Linked DNA regions of Homo sapiens. The protein of the gene in region 6 purifies or fractionates together with the protein of the main gene of each other region. This does not show direct contact. Each region holds a gene or a part of one and is shown on either strand. Other genes may lie near its edges.

What was found.
Region 1: the proteins of DAP3 (region 6) and YBX1 purify together in Homo sapiens (co-immunoprecipitation; 3 studies listed by BioGRID and IntAct, with this or other methods). This does not show direct contact.
Region 2: the proteins of DAP3 (region 6) and FIP1L1 fractionate together in Homo sapiens (co-fractionation; one large-scale study listed by BioGRID). This does not show direct contact.
Region 3: the proteins of DAP3 (region 6) and GRHL1 purify together in Homo sapiens (co-immunoprecipitation; one large-scale study listed by IntAct). This does not show direct contact.
Region 4: the proteins of DAP3 (region 6) and POC1A purify together in Homo sapiens (affinity purification with mass spectrometry; one large-scale study listed by BioGRID and IntAct). This does not show direct contact.
Region 5: the proteins of DAP3 (region 6) and ATAD3A purify together in Homo sapiens (tandem affinity purification; one large-scale study listed by IntAct). This does not show direct contact.
Region 7: the proteins of DAP3 (region 6) and WDFY2 purify together in Homo sapiens (affinity purification with mass spectrometry; 3 studies listed by BioGRID and IntAct, with this or other methods). This does not show direct contact.

Annotation. Positions count from the first base shown.
Region 1 is NC_000001.11:42,685,418-42,688,917, forward strand, and holds part of YBX1 (Y-box-binding protein 1), read left to right. Parts: intron 1-3,500. UniProt on the Homo sapiens protein: DNA- and RNA-binding protein involved in various processes, such as translational repression, RNA stabilization, mRNA splicing, DNA repair and transcription regulation.
Region 2 is NC_000004.12:53,422,641-53,426,140, reverse strand, and holds part of FIP1L1 (pre-mRNA 3'-end-processing factor FIP1), read right to left. Parts: intron 270-3,500; coding exon 176-269; intron 1-175.
Region 3 is NC_000002.12:9,999,735-10,002,777, forward strand, and holds the end of GRHL1 (grainyhead-like protein 1 homolog), read left to right. Parts: intron 1-858; coding exon 859-973; 3' UTR 974-2,543; downstream 2,544-3,043. UniProt on the Homo sapiens protein: Transcription factor involved in epithelial development. Binds directly to the consensus DNA sequence 5'-AACCGGTT-3'.
Region 4 is NC_000003.12:52,147,924-52,151,423, reverse strand, and holds part of POC1A (POC1 centriolar protein homolog A), read left to right. Parts: intron 1-252; exon of another isoform or gene 253-323; coding exon 324-408; intron 409-1,436; coding exon 1,437-1,608; intron 1,609-2,034; coding exon 2,035-2,214; intron 2,215-3,500.
Region 5 is NC_000001.11:1,515,162-1,518,661, reverse strand, and holds part of ATAD3A (ATPase family AAA domain-containing protein 3A), read right to left. Parts: intron 3,029-3,500; exon of another isoform or gene 2,847-3,028; coding exon of another isoform or gene 2,804-2,846; intron 2,651-2,803; coding exon 2,574-2,650; intron 1,496-2,573; coding exon of another isoform or gene 1,352-1,495; coding exon 1,250-1,351; intron 947-1,249; coding exon 887-946; intron 1-886. UniProt on the Homo sapiens protein: Essential for mitochondrial network organization, mitochondrial metabolism and cell growth at organism and cellular level. May play an important role in mitochondrial protein synthesis. May also participate in mitochondrial DNA replication.
Region 6 is NC_000001.11:155,736,801-155,739,510, forward strand, and holds the end of DAP3 (small ribosomal subunit protein mS29), read left to right. Parts: intron 1-145; coding exon 146-263; intron 264-1,356; coding exon 1,357-1,442; 3' UTR 1,443-2,210; downstream 2,211-2,710. UniProt on the Homo sapiens protein: As a component of the mitochondrial small ribosomal subunit, it plays a role in the translation of mitochondrial mRNAs. Involved in mediating interferon-gamma-induced cell death. Displays GTPase activity in vitro.
Region 7 is NC_000013.11:51,748,462-51,751,961, reverse strand, and holds part of WDFY2 (WD repeat and FYVE domain-containing protein 2), read right to left. Parts: intron 653-3,500; coding exon 547-652; intron 1-546. UniProt on the Homo sapiens protein: Acts in an adapter protein-like fashion to mediate the interaction between the kinase PRKCZ and its substrate VAMP2 and increases the PRKCZ-dependent phosphorylation of VAMP2.

The DNA.
Region 1 (3,500 bases), about 110 Mb from region 6:
AATGATTCTGGGACTTTTTTAATAAGATGCTGTAAAATCTGACTCCAATTAAATACAGGGAAGATTTGCTTTAATTAAGGAAAATGTATGTGATAAAAGAAATCACTTTGGAAGCTAGCAGTTGGTTCTATATGTAGTTCGTGTAGTGGAACAAATAGACTTGGCTGGAGGCACCTGTCTCTTATGAGGGAGGGAGACAGACTGACACATAACGTGCTGTTTTCTGTATAAAGGAGAGGGTGCAGTGTTCGGGATGACTATTGTGACGACTTTTAATTGGGGTTTTTGGATGCGCTGGATTATATATGCTAGGATTGTAAGGAATTTTTATAATTACAATATTGTATGTAAATTTTCTGCCTTTAAAGACATAATTTCATTGTAAATGTGTTTATTCCAGCCTGAATTACCACCTGATGAATTGTTACAACCTTGTTAGAATTAATTCATGAAAGGGCTTCTCCCTGATGGTTATATTGTGAAGAAGGTGCTAAGTAACATGAGCATAGAGCTTTTAAAAATAGCAGAAGTTTTGGCTTTATTTTGTTAGACTGTGTAATCTAGAAATTCTAAGAAATTCATTGAGTTATTCTTTTGTGAACTGTGTCTACAAAACATAATCGGAGAATGTGACTAGAGGGGTTTATTAGCTCCCCCCAGATTACTGTTGAATTTTGTTAGTGGTTGAGTATTGATCCATATTCACCAAAGATTACCATGAATTGGCAACAGTTTATAGTGACCAGAATAGGAATATTTTTCTGTTTCCAGAGTACTTAAAATGTTTAAATTAATAATTCTTAATGTTTTGAGGTGAAAGAATTTGGAGCAGAGGTCACAAATTTGTGACCTTCTGGCTAAAACTACTCCCAGATGCTTTGATTAGACAGTACAGTATTTTTTAAAGGAATTGGGATTAATTACTAACATTTATAATTCAGGAGATAACACCAAGTAATCCAGATTATTATATTTTTAAGATCTGAACTTTAGCTGGCTTTGGGGGCCTGTATTTCCACATAAGTAAAAACCACCTGGCCATATTGTCACCACATTTAGGTGGGGTATACTTTTTTTACGACAGCCTTCACGCCTGGCCTCTGTGTATGCATTTGAGTTTATTACCCATGGTCTAGGAAGATGTAATAAACCAAGCCAGGGAAAGGTTTGGCTATCTCTCTTTAGTCACGCCTATCAGGTTTAGTCTCCCTTTGGGGTGGGGGCTCCCTTGTGGGGATTCCATATGTACATAACTGATAGGTGACTTCCAACACATGTTGGTGAAAATAGATACAGCTAACAAGTATTTATACTAGGGTCTATAGTAAGTGCTTAAAATGAGCCAATTTACTTAATCTTTAAAAACCTTTGAGGCGTAGGTACTGTCATTCTGAGGCACAAAGGAGTTGTTACTTGTCCCCATAAGCATAGGTGATAAGTGGCAGGATTGGAACTGTTTTTTGACTCTGGAGTTAGTGTTCACCAACTGCTCTTATGCTGTCTCTGAAATAGACCCTAGCCATTTTCAATTTGGTTGTTGTCCACATAGTTACAGATAATTTCTTAGGGTGATTATTTTTAGCCGTTGAAAGACTCTTAAATGATCCAAGTATGTCACTGGGGCTCTTGTCTGCTGACTTGCTAGGTCCTGGATTTGAAAAGTTTTCTGCCTTTCACTATCTACTTTGTGAAGTTTGGGATTGTTAAAAGTTCTAGTTTAGCATGTAGGTCAGCTATACAAATAAAAGGACTTGCTTAATTCCTGATACTGGGAGGTGAAGAATTAAAGGAGAGAATGTTGCACCTTATCTCCCTTAATCTTTTTTTTTTGTATGGCCTGCAAGGTAAGACTGAATATTGCCTTTTTAAAGGGTGATTTTTCTTGAGATGGAGTTTCACTCTTGTCACCCAGGCTGGAGTGCAATGGCACGATCTTGGCTCACTGCAACTCCGCCTCCCAGGTTCAAGCGATTCTCCTGCCTCAGCCTCCCGAGTAGCTGGGATTACAGGCGCCCGCCACCACACAGGCTAATTTTGTATTTTTAGTGGAAACAGGGTTTCTCCATGTTGGCCAGGCTGGTCTCAAGCTCCTGACCTCAGGTGATCCACCCGCCTAGGCCTCCCAAAGTGCTGGGATTACAGGTGTGAGCCACTGCGCCCGGCCTCTAAAGGGTGATTTTTTTTTCTTTTTTAAAGGTGGCGGTGTAAAGTACTTACTGTGTGGTTGTTGGTTGTTTGAAGTGGAGTCTCTCTGTGTTGCCCATATGGGTCTTGCACTCCTGGGCTCAAGTGATCTTCCAGCTTCAGCCTCCCAAATGTGTGGTTCTTAATAGAAGTGTAAACCTTTGGAAGGATGTCATTACCAAAAATCTCTTGGGCTGTTAAAGTCACACTGATCTTAACTTGATCACAGTAGATCCATTGCTAAGCCACATAAGTCATGGGTAGACCGTAACATAACTGACAAAATGTTTTGGCACTAGGGAAGGTTTAAAGACTTTTCTGCAGGTGCTGCTAAGGGAGAGATGTCGAAGGTTCCAAACTGGAACCCTAAAGACAAACATCAATGACATGTATGCAGGAGACATTAGGAGAGATTTGTATGCTGGTTATATTAACCATTGATCTTAAGCTGGCAAGAAGTCATCCGTGTTCACCAAGTCACTGATACGTGACTTGGAGAATACTAGTAGGTCCCACTCCCTGTGTCCTCCCAAAGTACAATCCTTTACTCTTGAAATCTAGGATAGAGAACTAGTATCCAGTTTGACTCGTGAACAATGTGAGTTTGAACCACACAAGTCCACTTACACACAGATTTTTTTTGATAAATATATTGGAAAAATGTTTGGAGATTTGCAACAACCTGAAAACTTCAGATGAACCACATAGCCAAGAAGTATCCCCCAAAATAAGGAAAAGTTGAGTATGTTGTAGATACTAGTCTGTTTTATTATTTACTACCATAAAATGTACACAAATGCATTAGAAAGTTAATACAGCCATTTGCAGTTGAGAAATGTAAACAAACATAAAGATTCAGGCAGCATTAAATCATAACTGCACGACATTCACTGTAGTAATATTGTACTATTATAATATGTAGCCACTGCCTATTGCTACTGCAGTGAGCCCCTTAAAATGCCATGTGACGCTAATCATCTTCACATGAACAGTTTATCTCTCCAGTAAATTGCATGTCAGTAAAAAGAACTTGTAGTACACAGGTATTGTGGTTTAGTGCAATACTGTAAGTCTTCAATAGCACCATGGGACCCATGCAAAGTGGCGCTAGTGATGCTGAGAAAAGTCATGGCATTGTAAGAAAAAGTTCAGTTGCTCGATATGTGCTATAGATGAGGTCTACAGCTGGAATTACCTTTCAGACAGATGTACACTTACCGTATCGATAAGTGCAGTACTGTACATGTATTTTCTCTTACAACTTTCTTAGCATTTTCTTTTCTGTAGCTTTATTGCAAGAATACAGTATATAATAC
Region 2 (3,500 bases), on a different chromosome or scaffold from region 6:
GATTATAAATTCTAACTGGAAATGCCTTTATAATAAATGACTGGCTTCACATTTTAAATCTCTTTGTATCACCTAAAACACAGCATAGCACTATGACTATCTATTGAATAAATTAAATTATAATGTTGATATCATCCTTCAGTTAAAGAAAATTATTTATTTTAAAATACTAAACCTGTATGTTGCTGTTCTCATTTGCCCGTCGCCTGCCTTCTACTCGGCTGATAGTTATAGTCTGACCGATAACATCAATTGCCCCAGGTAATCTCCTGTAACATAAAAATTGAATCAATTCAGTTTCACCTAATTAGATGCTTAAAAAATAATAAAAGCAGTGAGAAATAAAAACAAAATGTGTTTGCAATAAATTTTAAAATAAAACCAGATCACAATACACATTGAAAAATATCCCTGAGTTTAAGCTCACTACTTTGCATTGTCATAAAAATTTTTATTAATAAACAAGCTAGAACCAACATACCCAACAATGATCATAATGTTAAGTTTTAAGTCTCTGTAGAGCTCTTCTACACTTACTAGTTTTAGTAGTCTCCAAATAAATTTATCTTTGTGAAATTAAATAAGACAGCAAATGCTAGACAAATGGAAATTTTGGGACCACTACAATTGTAACACATACTACAGCTCTATTACAGAAACTTTAAATATTCCCCAAAAAGGCCTGAAAATAATGCTCATTTTAACATACACAAGATATTTTCCTTGTGATATATTCCAAGTGTTAAAAAACATAAAAAAGGAACCAGTTTGCCATTTCTGATAACTTGCATTTAGATAGAAAAATTCAAATATTTAAATACCCGCCTCACCTCTACAATCTTTTTAAAGTTTATAAGGATATGGAAAAATAGTCTATCATAAAACAATGCTATAAATTTAAGAGAAAAACCTAGTAAGTTGTATTTTAAATAAAATAATGTTAAAAGCTATTATGCAGATAAAGGACTTTACAAAAGTATGCATGCCTAAGATGATATAGAAGTCACTTGGAGAAATAGGCAATGAAAAGTGGATGCAAATTAGATGAATTTCTCTTCATCTATATTTCAGTTCTGAACAATACTGCCTTTAAAACTTTATAGAAGCAAAACAATTAAAATACCATAGATCCTTCCACAGTCACTAGATTAGGCTCCTAAAATGACAAATAACAGCAGCTACCATAGGTTGGATGCCAAACCCATTATATCTAAACTTCACAAAAACTGAAAAATTACTGTATACTTGTTAGAGACAAGCCATGGTCCAAAGTGAAATCACTGACACAAGCATGAATTAAATAGCAAAACTAACTTTCAAACCTGAGTCTTTCTAATCCCAAAGACTATAGACCTCCCCTCCCCTTGAGCTAGGTTTCCTTCCAGCAAGACCTTTGAGGAATTTAAGGCTTTTCTGGAAATCATGAGTTAGTAAGAGTTTATCTCAAGTAGACCTTGAAACACTCCACAAATTATTTTGTGCTAACAAAGACAGCCCTATAAAAAGCACATCATGACATCTGAAATGTTTTCAAGTACATAGTCAGTTCCCACTTACCATCCCTTGCCCACTTAAGACTTCCCTTCTCTATAACTTTAGTACAATTTAAAAATGTTCAAGCCTTTCTAATTTTATGCCTGAGTCACTGACTTCCTAGATTTCCTCATGATCCCAAAGATCATGAATGATTTCATTGGAGGATTAACATATCCTCCAATACAGCTGGGGAAAGATCTTAATATTCACATGTTACAAAAATCCAAATATCTCTACAATAAAACAAATATTGCTTCCATTTCTTCCCTATAATTTAAATTGCAAAGCTATGCCTACCATGACTGCATTATCAAAGCACATGCCATCAGCCCTCTGATATACAAACATTTCATATTCCAACATCCTACTAAATACAGGTGTGCATTCTGAGGCTGTAATTTCCTCTCTGTTAATTGCTGCCCTCCATTGTCAAAATTTTTATTTTCGCTCTATTTCCTTTTCTACTATTTTCTCTTGCCAATCACTGGACTCTCTCCTTTGCATTTTTAAATTTATTCCCATCAAGAACAAATTCTACCAAATTTGTTTGGACTTGCAAGTCAGATAGCAAATTCTCCAAATTGTTAAAAGTGGTAAAAATTAGATCTAGATATAACTTTCCTGTTGAGGGGAAAATTTTCTATAGCCTGTCTTTTACCATTTATTTCTGAGGATCTCTAGTTTTCAAAAAGTCTGGGACACATGGAAGTATTCACCTCTTAAAATGTACCTTAAATATGGTCAGAAGTCTAATTAGTTTTTTTCAACTTTAAATTGATTGTTTTTAATCACTAAAGATTCAAAATGGCAAATACTATGTTTCTAAAAACATATAACTGAGAAATCAGCCTTAACAAGTATATATCCCTAAAGGGAGTTCAGAAAATTACAATTCTCCACATTTTCAAAACATCTCCTTGTGCCCGTATTTTTTAACCACATAAACTGATTTACTTTAATCATATAAATTAAGCTTACCGTTTTGTTCCAAAATGTTTTATGATAAGACACACAGTATGTACCACAGCAACAAAAAGCACATAATATCTAACACTGACAAATAATTTAAAAATCTAATATTATTCTGATGCCACATTATGGAAAAAAATATTGAACCATATTATTCCACGAAAGTTCTTAATGGACAGCTTTTTCTTTCATTGCTTAAGAAGATTTAATAGAGTTTCCCTATGAGGAAATCTACTGTAACTTAAGAGTTCCCCAAAGCGTAGGTTTGATTAGGCCAACAAACTTGTTCAGTAAGGTAGACAGCTAATGCTATTATCAAAATCCTCTTCTCCATATTGGACTCAACCATCTAGTAAAAAGCTAAGAAACTAACCACTCTGGGTGTCTGAGTTAATGTACAGTTTAAACAGGCAGTAAATGTTCCCAAGAGCCTCTACCTCCCCTCCTGGCACAGTAAATGAATATAAAAATATCTCTGAAGTTACAATGGAATTAAATTATCATATTTTGATGATTCTGATATCCCAGAAAGAATCTGAGGGCTCCCTGCAGAGATGCAACAGAAAGTTTAAGATGACAAATCAGGGCTAATAGAAGATAGACAAAAGGCCATAAATTGATCTCTGAAGGTCAGGCTCACGCATGTAATGCCAACACTTTGGGAGCCTGAGGCGGGAGGATTACTTAAGCCCAGGAATTCAAGACCAGCCTGGGCAACATGGCGAGACTTTGTGTCTACAAATAATTTAAAATATCAGCTAGGCATAGTAGCACATGCTTGTGGTCCCAGCTATTCAGAGGGCTTAGGTGAGAGGATTGCTTGAGTCCAGGAGATGAAGGATGCAGTAAACTGTGATTGTGCCACTGCACTCCAGACTGGGCAACAAAACAAGAGCCTGTCTCAAAAAAAAAATATATATATATACATATATATATATCTCAGCTGCTTTTTCTTGGAAGCCAAAGCAAAGGACATCATTAACAACAAATGTCTT
Region 3 (3,043 bases), on a different chromosome or scaffold from region 6:
CAGTGGCTAGCATAAGAATTTTTTGGCTTAGTTTTAAAACAAATTCTAATGGGAAATTTCTAGATGGTTCTAGTGGAAAGAGTTGGACTTAATAGTAGTTAATTTATTTTTGTTTATTTTCTTGTTTTTGTATTCTTTATTTTTTGTTTGATAATAGTAGTTCATTTAAACTTTGAGGCTCACTTGCTGGAGTGTGTAATTTGTCAGGGGGCTGTGACTTCACATCATGTAAGTTAGTGTTATTGATGTGCTTTTGCTTTATTCATTTAGAGATGGTTTCACTCTATCGCCCAGGCTGGAGTACAGTGGTGCAATCAGAGCTCACTGTAGCCTTGAACTCCTGGGCTCAGGCCATCCTTTCACCTCAGCTTCCCAAGTAGCAGGGACTACAGGCATGTACCACCATGTCCAGCTAGTTTTTAAAATTTTTCTGTAGAAATGGGATCTTGCTATGTTATCCAGGCTGGTCTCAAACTCTTGGGCTCAAGTGATTCTCCTGCCTCAGCGTCCCAAAGTGCTGGCATCACAGGTATGAGCCAAGTACCATTTACCAAGTGACAACTATGAAATACATGCTGGAAATAATAATCATAAATAAGCCAGTATATTTCATTTTCCAAATGCTATGATATAAATATATCACCTGATTTCCTCCTAACTCAATTCTCTCAGCAATCCTATAAGATGGGTACTATTATTATCCCCATTTTATAGATGAGGAAGTTGAGGCTTAAGGAGATTTAAATAATTTGCCTCACATGCTGCAACTAGTAAGTGGGAGAGCTAACAGGTCAATCTAGGTCTGACTCCAGGACCAAGTGGCAGTGAAGTTGGTTGGTCTTGTCCCCCCCCATCCAGGATCCTGGTGAACATGGACGACAACATTGTGAAGCATTACTCCAATGAGGACACCTTCCAGCTGCAGATTGAAGAAGCCGGGGGGTCTTACAAGCTCACCCTGACGGAGATCTAAAGGCCTGCGGGCCACAGCTCCCCAGGAGTTCAGTGCAGGTGTTTCTAGATCTTACGGTTTGGCAACTGCAGGTAACCCCAGTCAGCCATGTCGCCAGCACAGGTCTATGTCGAGGGAATGGGTTCCTTGCAGGTTGGAGGCGGGGCTGCATCTGGCTTGGTGGTAGCATTTAATCTATTGCATTGGTGTTTTTCAGATGAAAGAGAAATCCATATACCATTATGTTTGAATTTCCTGATATATACAGGATTTAAAGTGAAAACTTTATTCCAAGAGTTAACAGAGTCTCTGGGAAGCTTTAGGACATCTGCTACGTTATTTATCAAAATATTGGGATCTCTGCCTTGTGCCTACAGTGTCGTGGGCCTGCTCGCTAGCAGAAGTCAGAAAAGGCGATAGGCTTGGCTTTAAGGATTTCGTGCCCTTGCCTGAATTCAGTACAACTCCACTGCCTCACGTTAGCGGGAGCGCACCTGAAGAGTACGGGGGGAGCCCTCTCTCCCTTACCCTCTCACTCTCCACCAGATGTTTACTAAACAGGGCATGTTACTGAAATCTTCCTTTGCGACTTTCTCGGACATATCAACTGCCTTTCTCATGAAGAATTTTAATGGGTTACAGTATGAAATCAGTTAAGATAAAGCTGCATTGTATATAAGTGCAATATATTTTTGAAGGTCTGTAAATGTGTACATACATGTCTTATATAAATATATAATATATAAATATGGTGTCTGTGTACATATAGTGAAGATATGCAGTAAGAGCTACCTTAAAGACTTTCCCTAGACAAAGGTTAAGTTATTTTTTGATCGTGTATACCAAGCAGATAGAATACTGTGCTTAGTGGAACCCGCTAAAAACCTTTTTCTCTGTTTTTCCAAACACAGGCATTCTGTAGCATAGCAAAACCTTCTCAAATGACAGAGATTCTGTTTGCTGTTGAGAATGTTGTTATTTGGATTTCTGCACTGTTTAACAAATGAAGTAAAAGAAAAACACTACTGCAATCACGTCTTTTGTTATGCTAGTATCAGTCAGATGCACTTAGAGTGAAGAAACACTGTAATTACAGCACACAGATTGCAAGTATTGCGTACCAAGTGATACAACTCGAAATGCAGTTCTCATCTTCCTGTTTTGAGAAATGATTATTTTATCACGCATCAGAGCCTTCGTGCTTTGATTATCTTGTATGTTAACAATTCTAGAAAACATTCATGAATTCACAAAAATATGTTACTATGGCAGGGGAACATTTTGTACACATTTAAGTATATAAAAATACTAAAATATGTAATTTTATAACAAAGTCACGGGTATCTTTAGGTTCAGGGAACTAGACTAGGTCATTCGTGTAAATGGACTGGTAGTTACAGTCTTAGGTTAAAGTATTCTAATGAAGTATGGGAACTAAATTGCTGGTTTTCTAAGATAAGATATGGGATATGGGTCATATAACTTTTGTATTTTTTATGAAGTTGATTTTGTCTTGCGTGTTATTTTTAATTGTATCATTGAAGATGTATTTTAAACCAAAGGAATTAAATTTTATATGTCTATTTCGTAATATGTCATTTCCTGTTTTTCAATTTGACTTTGCACTGCTCAGTAAAACGTGAGAGCTGAAAAGCATCTCATTGCTAGCACTTTCTGCTTATTTCTTAATGTGTGCGCTTAGGTTGTTTTCTTCATGTTAACTTTTCCTTACTGATGCCTGAAATGATCCACGTAATTGTTAAGTCAGGGATCCCTGAATGATTTTCCAATTCTTACCAAAATTTAACCACTAAAGCTGAAGGTAAATGCTTTCATACCTAAAATCTTAGTATTCTTAGTGTTTAAAAGCCTAACAGAAAATACTTAGTTTAAAAATTTACCAATATTTAAATCATTAGAATCTCTAAAACAGGCGTCCTGAACATATTCCAGGGTAATCCAGGGCCTAAATATGATAGACACTAGGATATATTTTTAATGGATACAAGATCAGATTAATGACGTAAACTCCCTGATAGGGCTCCTGGGACATCTGCACTTTTCACAGTAACCCTCGGGCCAAAGTGGAGA
Region 4 (3,500 bases), on a different chromosome or scaffold from region 6:
TTTTATTTTTTGGATTATTCATTGCTAGTGTACAGAAAGACAATTGATTTTTGTGTCTTGATTTTGTATCTTGCAACTTTGCTGAACTCATTTGTTTTTTGTTTTTGTTGAAGCATTTCCACAGTTGATGTATTAATTCAAATAGTAAAAACTATTCCTAGTAAAAACTAATCCTAAGTGGATTCCTTAGGATTTTCTTTATATAAGATCATGCCTTGAGCATTTTTAACCCTACTCCCCCGGCTGTTGTAGGAAGAGTGCTGGCCCTGGGGAAGCCCCTTCCTCACCCAGGCTTCACACATTTGACCCTGGCTCTCTCTCAGGAGGACCCCTCGCTGGAAAGGCATTTTAAGGGCCACCGAGATGCAGTTACCTGTGTGGACTTCAGTATCAACACAAAGCAGCTGGGTAAGAAGAGGCACCCTGTCTAGGTGCTAGGTTATGAGCTGAACAGGCCAAGTTTTTACCTCGGAGGGGTGGTGGGTGGGAAGCAGAGCACAAGGACTGCACAGCTTTGTCTAGACCTGCTTCTAGTCTTGCTTCTGCTTGCCAGCTCTTTGGGCACTGGGCTTCATGAGCTTCATTTTACATGCAGAGCCTGAGGGTCAGAGAGGTTAGGGGCCTTGCTAAGGCCACAGAGCTTTTGAGGGTGGGACTGGGATCTGGGTCTTTTCTGCACACCCTAGCCACCTTTTGGGTCTGTCTTTTGGTGTGGGCCCTAAACAGTGACTCCTTTTCCTTGAAGCTTTACTGATTCTGTTGCCCACAGTAATAAGGCACACCTTGTTGAAGAGCCTTGTCAGTGAGAAGGCTGTTGAGCAGAGATGGGCACCCCCCTCGACCCCACTGCTCTTATGCTGCAGCTGACTGTCCCCCTTCCTTGGTTGCATGAGGTTTCGTACACAGCTTTTATGACTGCGCTTTCTGGTTCCTGCAGAGGAGGCTTGCCCCTTCATCCTGTCATCAAGACCCTCTGATGTGTAAAGGTTAAGAGGGAACTGAAGTGATTTTTGATCAGTTTTGGGGACCTCCTTTAGGCTTCATACTGAGTTGGGCCCTCTCAATGGGAGGGGCTGGCTTCCCAGCTGGGGAGGACTTGCTCTCTGGTGCCCTCAGGATGTGTCTGGGGGGAGACCCTGGGCCCCATGGGAATGAGTTTTCCCAGAGCTCTGGATTGCAGTCCAAGGCTAGCATGGGAAGGGCCTCGGTCTTATTCCCATGTGGGTGTGCTCCTTGGAGAACTCTGGGCCACAGGCTCTCCACCTCCAGACCATACCTCGAGATGTGCTCTGCTCCATGGGAGACTTCTCACGGTCTGTTTGTGGATGCCAGGGAAGATGGAGCTGGGCCAGTTGCTCCCCCTGCCTCTCCAATGTCTTGGTGGAGGCTTGAAGCCTGTTAGAGCTGTAGGTCATAGCATCACCCACTGTCCTCAGCCAGTGGCTCCATGGACTCATGCCTCATGGTCTGGCACATGAAGCCGCAGTCACGCGCCTACCGCTTCACTGGCCACAAGGATGCCGTCACCTGTGTGAACTTCTCTCCTTCGGGACACCTGCTTGCTTCCGGCTCCCGAGACAAGACTGTCCGCATCTGGGTACCCAATGTGTGAGTCGTACACTTTGAGGAGGCTTGTTGGAGTCTGGGGCCCTGGTGCCAGAGCCATCCCCACCCAGGTCCCCTAGCTTGGCTCTGGACTGGTCACAGTGGGACTTCTACTCTGCTTTGGAAGAGGTGCCATCAGAGGCTGGGGCTGCAGTTGGAGCCCTCCCCTCAGGGTTGGAAGAGGAGTTCTGGGCTTACCCAATCTATCCCTAAAGAAATGCCACCTGATGCTGTGTTCATGTGGGTGGGGCCTAGAGATGGTGCTCTGTTCATATAGGAGAGGCTCTGGCTTTCCCTTGTGGAGACTGGGGTACTCGGGCTTGACTGACTTTGGGAGGGGTGCTTGAGGAGTAGGAGAGCTTTGATGTGCTTGTGGGCTCTCATGTCACTGTTATGGGTTTCCTTACTCTTGGATGCCTGTCCTTGTAGCAAAGGTGAGTCCACTGTGTTTCGTGCACACACAGCCACAGTGAGGAGTGTCCACTTCTGCAGTGATGGCCAGTCCTTCGTGACAGCCTCTGACGACAAGACAGTCAAAGTGTGGGCAACTCATCGCCAGAAATTCCTGTTCTCCCTGAGCCAGCATATCAACTGGGTCCGCTGTGCCAAGTGAGCATTGTTCTGTCTGGAGACCCTTGGAGGAACCCTGGGGGTTGGGGGCTGGCCCAGGGGCTGCTAGGTACCAACTTATGACCTCGGGCAAGTTACTTAGGCATTGTTTAAGCTTCCTCAGCCTCGGTTTCCTTATCTGTAAAATGGAACAATAATAGCTCCTGCATTGTAAGTTGTCGAGAAGCTTCATGGAGCTGATGCATGACATGTAAGTTAGTCCATAGTCAGCCATGATGACCCTCTGACATCTGTGTTGGCAAAGCACAAACTGGGTCAACAGGGGCCATTTATTATCAAAAACAATTAGGTACTTTCAGTACTACCATTACACATTTTCTTTTTGTTCCTTAAGACAGTTCTGCAAGCTAGGTGCATTTCCATTTTGCAGATGAGGAAATGGGGGCTCAGAACAGTAGTATCTTGTCCCAGAGCACACGGTGGGTCTGTGGCAGAGCTGGAGTTTGAACCCAACTCTCTCTGACAGTAAGGCTTGCCTACTTTCCTCTGGGATGTTCTCAGGGGATGATTTTGCTCCAGAGCTCCCAGATGGGGGCGCAGGCTTCGGAGATGGGGGGCTTAGCCTGGAGGCTAGCCTTCCTGCTGGCCAGGGAGCCAGTGCTGTGCAGACAGCGGGCCAGGTAACCCAAAGGACCTTTCAAGGTCCAAGAATTGCAGACAGATAGTCCTACTTCTAGCTTATTTCATTCCTTTCAACAGAGCTTCCCCATGGGTCAAATATCTTTGCTTCAGAGGAAGGGGTTGGGGTGCCAGGTGACATTAGGAAACCACATGAGTCAGAAGTTGGGGACTATTGAGCTGTGTTCTTCTGGGGACCCCATACAAGTTACTGTTCTCCAGGGCACCCCCATTCCTTTGTCCTGGGAGACCCCTGATGGCTCTTAGAGGCTTTATGACTAGGGTCCTGAGATCAGGAGGGGCCAGGCCAGCAAACTGGGGTGTCAAGTCCATACTGGGCCTTTGGTGGCAGTCCCCAGGACCTCATGCCTTTTGTTGGCAGATTGTGTCTTGCTGACCCGCACTTGAGTCAAATGTAGACTCGGAGGACCTGGTCCCAGAGTAATGACACTGATGGTGAGCTTTTGGCCACCTTTATGCAAATGTTGCCGGCAGGCAGTCGGCTGCATGTTGCCATGTGCTGTGCGTCAGGGGCAGTGCTGGGGCTTTATGTGCATGAGGCTGCTCTGTGCTCACTCGTGAGGCAGGCACCTTTTTTTTTTTCTTTTCTTTTTGTTTATTTATGTTTGGTTTTCCTCTAAGTCAGG
Region 5 (3,500 bases), about 150 Mb from region 6:
TGCGGGGGGTGGGGGGGTTGTGCGTGCCTGTGGGGGGGGGTGTGTACGCCCGTGTGTGGGTGTGTGCCCATGTGCGGGTGTGTGTGTGTGTCCCTGTGACGGGAAGGCGTGTGTGCCCGTATGTGTGTGTGGGGTCTGTGCGCCCATGTGGGGGGGTTGTGTGCGTGCCCATGTGTGCGGGGGGGCTGTGCCCATGTGTATAGGGGGGTGTACGCGCGCCCATGTGTGTGGGTGTGTGTGTGTCCGTCTATGGGGGGGCATGCCCATGTGTGTGTGGGTGTGCGCCTGTGTGTGTGGGGCTGTGTGTGTGCCCGAGTGCGCGGGTGCCAGTGAGCCTGTGGGGGGTATGTGTGCGCCTGTGTGTGTGTGGGGGGGTACGTACCTGTGTGTGGTGTGTGTGTGCGTATCTGTGTGTGTGTGTGCGGGGTGTATGTGCGTACCTGTCTGTATGGGGGTGTGTTTACAGGTGTGAGTGTCCATGTGGGTGTGTGCCTGCCCGTGTTGTGTGGGGGTATGTTTGCGGGTGTGTGAGTGCAGGCCTCTGTGTGGGGGTGTCTGTGTGTGGGCCCGTGTGTGCAGGGGTGTGTGTGTGCCCGTGTGTGCAGAAGTGGGTGCACCTGTCTGTGTGTGCTGGGAGTGTGTGTGCGAGGAGTGTGTGTCCGTGTGGGTAGGTGCCTGTGTCTCCATGTACATGTGTGCACACGTCTGCATGTGTGCCTGTACACGTGTGCTGGTGCGTGTCTGTCCGAGTAGTTTCCCCTGCTCTAGCACCCACCGTCAGCAACCCCAGCGTTCTTGCCCCGTGGCCTCTGACCCACTGACTGGTCCCACAAAGCCACCTACGTTCTCAGGGACGCAGGCGCCTCGCAGGGGAGGCTGAGCTCACCTGCTGCTTCAGTTGGTCCTCGTAGCGCTGCCGGGCCAGCTTGTCTTGATACTGGGCCCTCTGGGGGAGAAGAGGGCGGCAAAGACACATCTCAGCCGGGAGCTGCAGTCTGGGCCGACTGGGCGGAGCGCCGGGGACTCCGACGCGCCATCAGCCTCACACAAACGTGGGGAGGCGCGGGGACCTCCCGTCCGGCTCAGCAGTGAGGGACCTTACAGGTCTTAGGCGTTTGTGCAAGGCCGTTCCGAGGGCAGCTCTAATGGCTGACTCCAGAGTGCCCCGGGACCACACCCAGCTCCCAGTCCTGCCCCAGGCCGCTCCCCGCAGCCGGGCGGCCTCCCTCGCGGCCTCTTGCGCTCTTACGGCCTGGTGCTGCCGGGTCTCCTCGCTCAGGGTCTTCCTCCTCTCCTCAGCCTGCGCCCGGATCTGCTCGCTCTTGAGCTGCTCCACGGCGGCCTCATACTCCTGCAGAGCACAGCACTCACCAGCTGGCACTTGCTCAGGGCTGGCACTGCCTGACAGCCGCTCCTGTGTCTGCACGGCTCCGGCACGGCAGAGACTCCATGCCCAGACTAGTGTGTGCAGCAGGCTCAGGGCTTCCAGCCGCATCTGCACCCAGGATCAGGCCCTGGAGGAATCCAGACCCACAGGCACAGAAGCACCAGCAGAAGCCCGCGAAGGCCCCCCGGGAGGGAGGCCGGACACCCCCTTTTGGACTGCACTGAGGGCAGAGCTCATGCTTATTTTAGGAATCCTGCTGAGTGGACCGGGTGCGACGGCTCTCGCTTATAATCCCAGCACTTTGGGAGGCCAAAGTGGGTGGATCAACTGAGGTTAGTAGTTCGAGACCAGCCTGAACAACATGGTGAAACCCCATCTCTACTAAAAATACAAAAATTAGCCAGATGTGGTGGCGGGCTCTTGTAGTCCCAGCTGCTCGGAGGCTGAGGAAAGAGGTTGAACCCGGGAGGTAGAGGTTGCGGTGAGCTGAGATCACGCCACTGCACACCGGCCTGGAAGACAGACTAAGACTCTGTCTATAAAAAAATAATAATATGAAACAAGGCAGGCACAGTGGCACAAGCCTGTAATCCCAGCACTTTGGGAGGCCGAGGCAGGTGGATCACTTGAAGTCAGGAGTTCAAGACCAGGCTGGCCAACATGGTGAAACCCCGACTCTACTAAAAATATAAAAATTAGCCAGGTGTGGTGGCGGGTGCCTGTAATCCCAGCTATTCAGGAGGCTGAGGCAGGAGAATTGCTTGAACCCAGGAGCGGAGGTTGCAGTGAGCCCAGATGGCACCACAGAACTCCAGCCTGGGAAACAGAGACTCCGTTTCAAAATAAATAAATAAAACGAAATAAAACAAAAAAATCCTGCTGAGTGTAATGAAATGAGAAGATCCAGGCCATCCGGACGACCAGACGCCCTCACCAACACCGGCCCTCCCTCCGGACGACCAGACGCCCTCACCAACACCAGCCCTCCCTCTCGGGCGGCTCTGCGGCAGCGTCTCTCACCTCCCTTTGTTTCCTTCTGTGAAATGAGGCGCCCAAGCTTGGCCCTGGGCCCCACTGCTGCCCATGTACACACCCCCGGCCCTACCCACCGGCAGTAGCCCTACCAATCTCCATGCCCGAACCCCATGTGCGCCCCGGCCTCCCCACCCACACCGGCCCCACTCACTTTGAGCTTGGACTGTTGCTCCAACTGCAGCGTCTGCTCCTGCATCTGTGCCAGATTCAGGGCGTCCTTGGCATAACCTGCAGACGCAAGGACACGGAGGGCAGGTGTTAGGATACACGGATGCCGCTGGGCAGGCACGCACACCAGCCAAGGGGCTTTCTGGAATCCACGGCCACGCCTCGACCTCAAAGCCCCCAGCCCTGCCTCCCCATCCTCCTTCCTAGTCAGACCTGGCGTGACGATGCACCATCCCCAGCACACGGCCTGATGCATTTGTGAGGTTTTATCCCCCCAGGGATGGTCTTGGAGAGCCACATCAGGAAGGCCATCCCACGTGGACGGGAGGAGGCTCTTTCCCAATTCAACAGAAAGTCAGGCGATGGCTAAAGTGTCCTCTATTTTTTCACGTTACATTCGCTTTTCCTAAGCTTCCAATGGCTGTTGTCATTGATCTGCTATCAAGCACATGCAGGCAAGAAAGGGAATGAATAAGAATAGGATACCAGCCAACAAGCTCAGGGTGACGAGGACAAGCATCTGACAACGTCCTCAGTTACGTTTTGTTCCTAGAGGGGAACTGACACAGGTCGATGTTTGGGTGTCGTGGGACAGAAGTACGTATTCTCTGAGCTGCTGAGGCCTCAGCATCAGGTCTCAAAATTTTCTGGGATGACAGTTTTCCCATCATAAAACTTTACCATAAAAATCTTTTGGCTGGGCGCGGTGGCTCACTACTGTACTCCCAGCACTTTGAGAGGCTGAGACGGGTGGATCACTTGAGTCCAGGAGTTAGAGACCGGCCTGACCAATGTGGTGAAACCCCATCTCTACTAAATATACAAAAATTAGCTGGGCGCAGTGGCGGACGCCTGTAATCCCAGCTACTCTGAGGCTGAGGTGGGAGGATGGCTTGAACCCCGGAGACAG
Region 6 (2,710 bases):
TATCAGGCAATGTTGCCAGAGAATGAGAAGTAGAGTTACATAGAAGAAAAACAAATACCTTACCTTCAAAGTGCTTAAGTAGAGTCTGTCTGTCTGGTGCTTTGTTCCTTAACTAACATGTTTCCTGATCCTTTTTCTTCCCCAGGAAGGATTTGATGCCCTGGATCCCTTTATTCCCATCCTGGTTTCCAACTATAACCCAAAGGAATTTGAAAGTTGTATTCAGTATTATTTGGAAAACAATTGGCTTCAACATGAGAAAGGTCCATCATTTAGTTTTTTCCTATCAGGGCTTTGTGATCACAGTAGAATCCCACTCAGTCAGAGCCTTGATCTCTTCTTCCCTTAACAACAGCCTCTAATTTGTACTTCATCCTTTATCTTGACTTCTTTCTGGCTGATAAATGGTACAGAAAAGCGGGTGGGAGGCAGTTAAGGTTTAATTTACAAAAGAGATTTTATCCCTAAATTTTCCATGATAAAGAAGGGAACAAAGGCAACTCCATCCACTGGGCAGAATTTCCAGGTAATTGGGTTCCTGCCACATTCTCCTTATTGAATTTATTTATTCAATAGACTTCACTGGAGAGACTCATGCTGGGACACCCACAGAAAAATTCATACTGTGCAAGGGCTACTCCAGCACCTAAGTAAATCTTTGCCACACCTGTCCTAGTATATGTACAGAAATTAACTTTCAGCACTATATTTCATCTACTCTGACTGAAAGCATTCCAACTGTTCATTTACTTGCCCTTGACCTCACATTTGAGTATGAAGAGGGGATATAGAAGAAAAGCTAAGGCTGCTCTATCACTAGATAATAGAGTTAATAGTAATCGGAGGCCTGGTGCAGTGGCTCACACCTGTAATCTACACTTTGGGAGGGCAAGGTGGGAAGACCACTTGATGTCGGGAGTTTGAGACCAGGCTAGGCAATATAGTGAGACCCCATCTCTATTGAAAAAAGCAAAAAAAAAAAAATACTATTTAGAATAGCTTATTAAAGGAGTACAGTGAAGAGTGTAAGACTAACTGTAGCATGTTAAGTTGGGATGCACAATAGACAGATTTCTAAGAGTTGGGAGATGTCACAAAATCCTGAAGTCCAGAAGACACTCTTGGAGTGGAGAGAGAGCTCCATGCTGGTTTGGAGGAGTAGACACAGAAAAGGAAGTAATGCATACAAAAGAAGAGTAGCTTGTTGGGGTGAGGGTCTAGAAGTAAGATCTCTTGGGAGATGATAATTACCTCAGAACGTAATTTGGATATGGTAGCCTCTGACTACACGATATTCTGGGGAACACAGTGCAGCAGGAGGAAACTGCCACTTACCTGTGTTTGTCTCCATTTTAGCTCCTACAGAAGAAGGGAAAAAAGAGCTGCTGTTCCTAAGTAACGCGAACCCCTCGCTGCTGGAGCGGCACTGTGCCTACCTCTAAGCCAAGATCACAGCATGTGAGGAAGACAGTGGACATCTGCTTTATGCTGGACCCAGTAAGATGAGGAAGTCGGGCAGTACACAGGAAGAGGAGCCAGGCCCTTGTACCTATGGGATTGGACAGGACTGCAGTTGGCTCTGGACCTGCATTAAAATGGGTTTCACTGTGAATGCGTGACAATAAGATATTCCCTTGTTCCTAAAACTTTATATCAGTTTATTGGATGTGGTTTTTCACATTTAAGATAATTATGGCTCTTTTCCTAAAAAATAAAATATCTTTCTAAAGTGTTGTGTTAGATTAATAATATGGAAGGAGTCTTTAGATTGGCCAAATTGCATTTCTCTGATATTCCTCTTGTTGCAGGTCAGAAGAGATCAATTCTACAGAAATTTCCAGTGGTTCTGTTGAGGCTTTATGGAATTCAGCATGTCAAAATTCACAGCTGGCTGGGCACAGTGGCTCATGCCTGTAATCCCAGCACTTTGGAAGCCCAAGGCGGGCAGACTGCTTGAGTTCAGGAGTTTGCAACCAGCCTGGGCAACATGGTGAAAACCTGTCTCTACTAAAAATACAAAAATTAGCCGGGCACGGTGGCATGCGCCTGTAATCCAAGCTACTTGGGAGGCTGAGGCAGGAGAATTGCTTCAACTTGGGAGGCGGATGTTGCAGTGAGCCAAAATTGCACCACTGCACTCCAGCCTGGGCAGCAGAGCAAGACTCCGTCTCAAAATAAATAAATAAATAAATAAATAAATAAATAATAAATGTATACTGTACTGTTTTACATGACCGACTTCAGCATCTAAGGATGTTGCTACCTGGAGGAAGTGGGATCCTGGAACGAATCCCACATAGGTATGAGGAATAACAATAATGGAAAATCAGGTATCTTCCCTTTCTCCCAGTGCTTTTCTAAAAGGAATTTCTGTTACCAAATCCTAGAGATGATACAATTCTACACAAATATATATATGGCCGGGCGTGGTGGCTCATGCATGTAATCCCAGCACTTTGGGAGGCCGAGGCGGGCAGATCACTTGAGGTCAGGAGTTTAAGACCAGCCTGGCCAACATGGTGAAACCCCGTCTCTACTAAAAATACAAAAAGTAGCCGGGGGTGGTGGCACATGCCTCTAATCCCATCTACTCGGGAGGGTGAGGCAGGAGAATTGCTTGAACCCAGGAGGTAGAGGTTGCAGTGAGCCGAGATCATGCCATTGCACTCCAGCCTGGGTGACTGATAGAGACTCTGTCTCAAAAAAAAAT
Region 7 (3,500 bases), on a different chromosome or scaffold from region 6:
GCTCAAAGATTAAAATGAAAGCTCATAAAAAAGAATGTTCTGATAACATGTAAATACGTGCTAGAAAACTAAGGATATATTGATATCTGGGGAACTATTTAGAACATGACTTATAAAGTACAAAATAATTATTTCTAGTATTTCTATTAATACCAAACTAAGGATTCTTGCTTCATCTTAGCCACTATTTTCTTCCATGACATAAATCACGTGAGTCCTCCGTTTTTGTAGTGCATTTTATACCAAAGGACTAATCACCAGGAAATAGATGGTTTCTTTTCCTCACCTGTACTTTTGCTGTGAATGGTGTAACAGATTTAAACAGCTTAGTCTCAGTCAAAATTCTTATGAACTCTCCATCACAGTAATGTTACATGCCAACTTGTGAGGGAAAAAAAAAACAACCCAAACAACTCCTTTTATGCTACAATTCTTTAACGTTACATGCCTTATTTCATGGTTTAATCATAAAAGAAATAAGAAATAAGCAGGAAGGGAGGCAGGGCCAGAACCACAGGGCCCACCCCACCCTGCTGTGCCACCTACCTCCTGCCTCTCCACGTCCATGTTCCAGACGACAATCCCACCATCACCGCCACAGGAGATCAATTGTCGCGTGTGCTGTGCATAGGAGAGGGCCTGGACTCTGTCGCTGTGAAAGAAACCAAGGGTTATTGACAGTTTAGGAGAACAAATGCAAGGCCTCGCAGCAGAAACCTTGGCAAAGTCAGCCAATGTGCTCACTCACTCCGAGCCCCCAGTGTAGATCTTAGAAACCTGTTGGAATTTTCAGCATGTTAAAGGTCAGAAGAGTATCCAGGATTTAAAATAAGTCTGAATGCTCCTGGCATGTTCAGGCCCCAGGAAGAGGTAATCTGTCAGTTACAACTTTTTTCCTTTTTTAAGGAAAAAAGCTGATTGTTGAATGGGCTGTAACTTCTTACTGGTTCCCTCCTTCCTTAAGTGATCAAAATGTGTAGCGTATGTTCATTTCACATTTGTTCAAGAGTCATGATTTTTCCTTTTAAAAAATTATCCTTGAAGAGTTTTGGAGGTCATCCATTGAGATGCCCACTGGATTTACCTGACACAGCCAGGTAAACTGTGTTGCCTGAGGTGTGCACCTCACAAGTGGCTTGGGACCAGGCATGCCTTTACTTGGCTCCCAGAGTGAATCCATAGCAGTAACAGACTTGAATTTCACAGGCTCTCCATTTCTCTAGTTTTTACTCTCTCTCTCCTGATTCTGTTTTATTTTTCTTTCTAGTTTGTGCATGGCTGACAAGTTATTCCCTCTTGGCGGCAAAAATGATGGAGAATCTAGTTTTATGGTCTGAGTGATTGCTAGCAATGGATTACAGAGATCTATTCTCTATTGGGTGAGAGAATAGGGTACATAGTTTCTTGGTCTTTTTTTTTTTTTTGTATGTTCGTCTATTTTGAGCTCAAATCAATGAAGAATTTTGTTTCTACTGGGAAGGAGAACAGCTCTTTGATATCTGGACTGGTGATTTTTTTGTGTTTCTATTTATTCTTGATCTGTGGCTGAAGTTGAAAAACTAAAGCTATTAAGCTGTGTGTGTCTATGTGTTTATAATCCAGAAAAGCCTTCACCTCTTGCTGTGTGTGGAATGCTTTCCTATTTCCAGAGGGTGTCAATAAATTGGATTACGATACCTTTTAAATTAAAAGAACTTGTTCTGATTGTTTGATAAACAAGTGCTTTTATAAGTTGAATCCTCCTAAAATCACAGAACATCAAACCTCTAATATTTTGAACCTGCTAGACTTAAACATAAAAATTCTTTTAATAGAAACTGCTAGCCAATTCAGTAATATTTTAAGAATCCAAGTTCATAAAATTAAGTTTCATTTGGCAAATGAGACTAGTAACATAGGTTTTAAAATGTTACATCTTTCTCTGATTTATTAGTGTTGAACAGAATACAAGTGTGCATTTTATTTTTACTTCTCCTAAATTTATTCAGGATAGCTGGTCAAGTGAACTCATACATAATGTTTAAGATTATTAAAAATATAAATTTGTGTTCAGCTGAATTGAATAACTATTCTGACAAACTTTTTATATGAATAGCAATTATGTTTTGTAGCGTATCAACTTAAAGATAATTTCCAAGGTCTTTAGGTAACAAAATGGACTAATGTTAACCTGAGCTAATCAATAATCATTGGATACCTAGATAATTTCTAAGTAAGTTAGAATACTGTGACTTTGATTATAAAGTATAATATTAAGTTTATATATGTTTGCTTCTTATTTTTCTATGCTATAGTGAGGCTATACCTTTGAGTTGTGTCAATACAGGAGTTCATTTTTTGCCACTTTAAGGGAATGTAAAAGTGCCTTATGTCACTATGGAAATTTCAGTAATGTGTGTTCATGAGTTTTGCTAGTCTGCTAAAATGATTATATGGGACGATTTCCAATTGTCCATATCCTCCCTCCTCCTAATTTTCTCTATGAAATATAAATTAGTTTCTCTGGTTAATTATTATAATTTAAATGGGTGGTTGAGATTATGCCAGGAGCATTAATGAAAAAGAAATACAGTGGTTTTTGTTTTTCAAATCAAAACAGGGTAGCTTTGTATCAAAGCAGTGGTTCTTGAACTTTTTGGTCTCACAATCCCTTTATACTCTTACAACTTATTTGACGACACCAAAGAGCTTTGGTTTAGTAAGTGATAATGATCGATATATACTTAATTTGGAATTAAAACTGAGAAATTTTTAAAATATTAATTCATTTGAAAATAGCAATGATGAATCCATTTCATTTTAACATAAGTCACATATTCTGTAAAAAAAGATATTTTCCAAAACAAAAAATTTTGATGAGAAAAATGACATTGTTTAATATTTTTGCGAGCCTTTCTAATGTCTGGCTTAATAGAAGAGATGGATAATCATCTTTCTGCATTTATCATAATCATAATATCACTTATCATGTAGCTTCTGGAAAACTCCATTGTATACTTTCGAGAGAATGAAGATGAAAAGGGCAATACTAAAGTGTCTATTTGTTCTGGAATATGAAAGAGAAAAATGAAGGACAAAACTTGGAAAGTCAGTTTTACTTGCTTTGGCTTATAATACTTTAGTCTGAAAAAAAGGTATAAGATGCATTACAATTTTGGCTAAGTTCCCTCAGTTTTGATGGCTTGCTTCCTTACTTTACTGATTAATGCCTACAATGTGAAAGGATGTTCTTTACCTTCTGTGGAATCTGCCTAGCTAGCAGACATTCTGTGTCTCACCAGAATTATTTTCAGTGCTTTATGTTGACTTGATTAATGCTCTTAAGAAAAAAAAAAGAGAGAGAGAGAACAAGGAGTACTCACGTGTGAAAAGAATTTTAAATTATTTAAAATTGTGTTATCATCTATGTTTATTTTTAAATGTTTTACCGCTTTGATTATATAACCAGACATTGCTTCTTAAACACCTGTGCTCCTGTCTTACCCTACTTAAAATTCCCT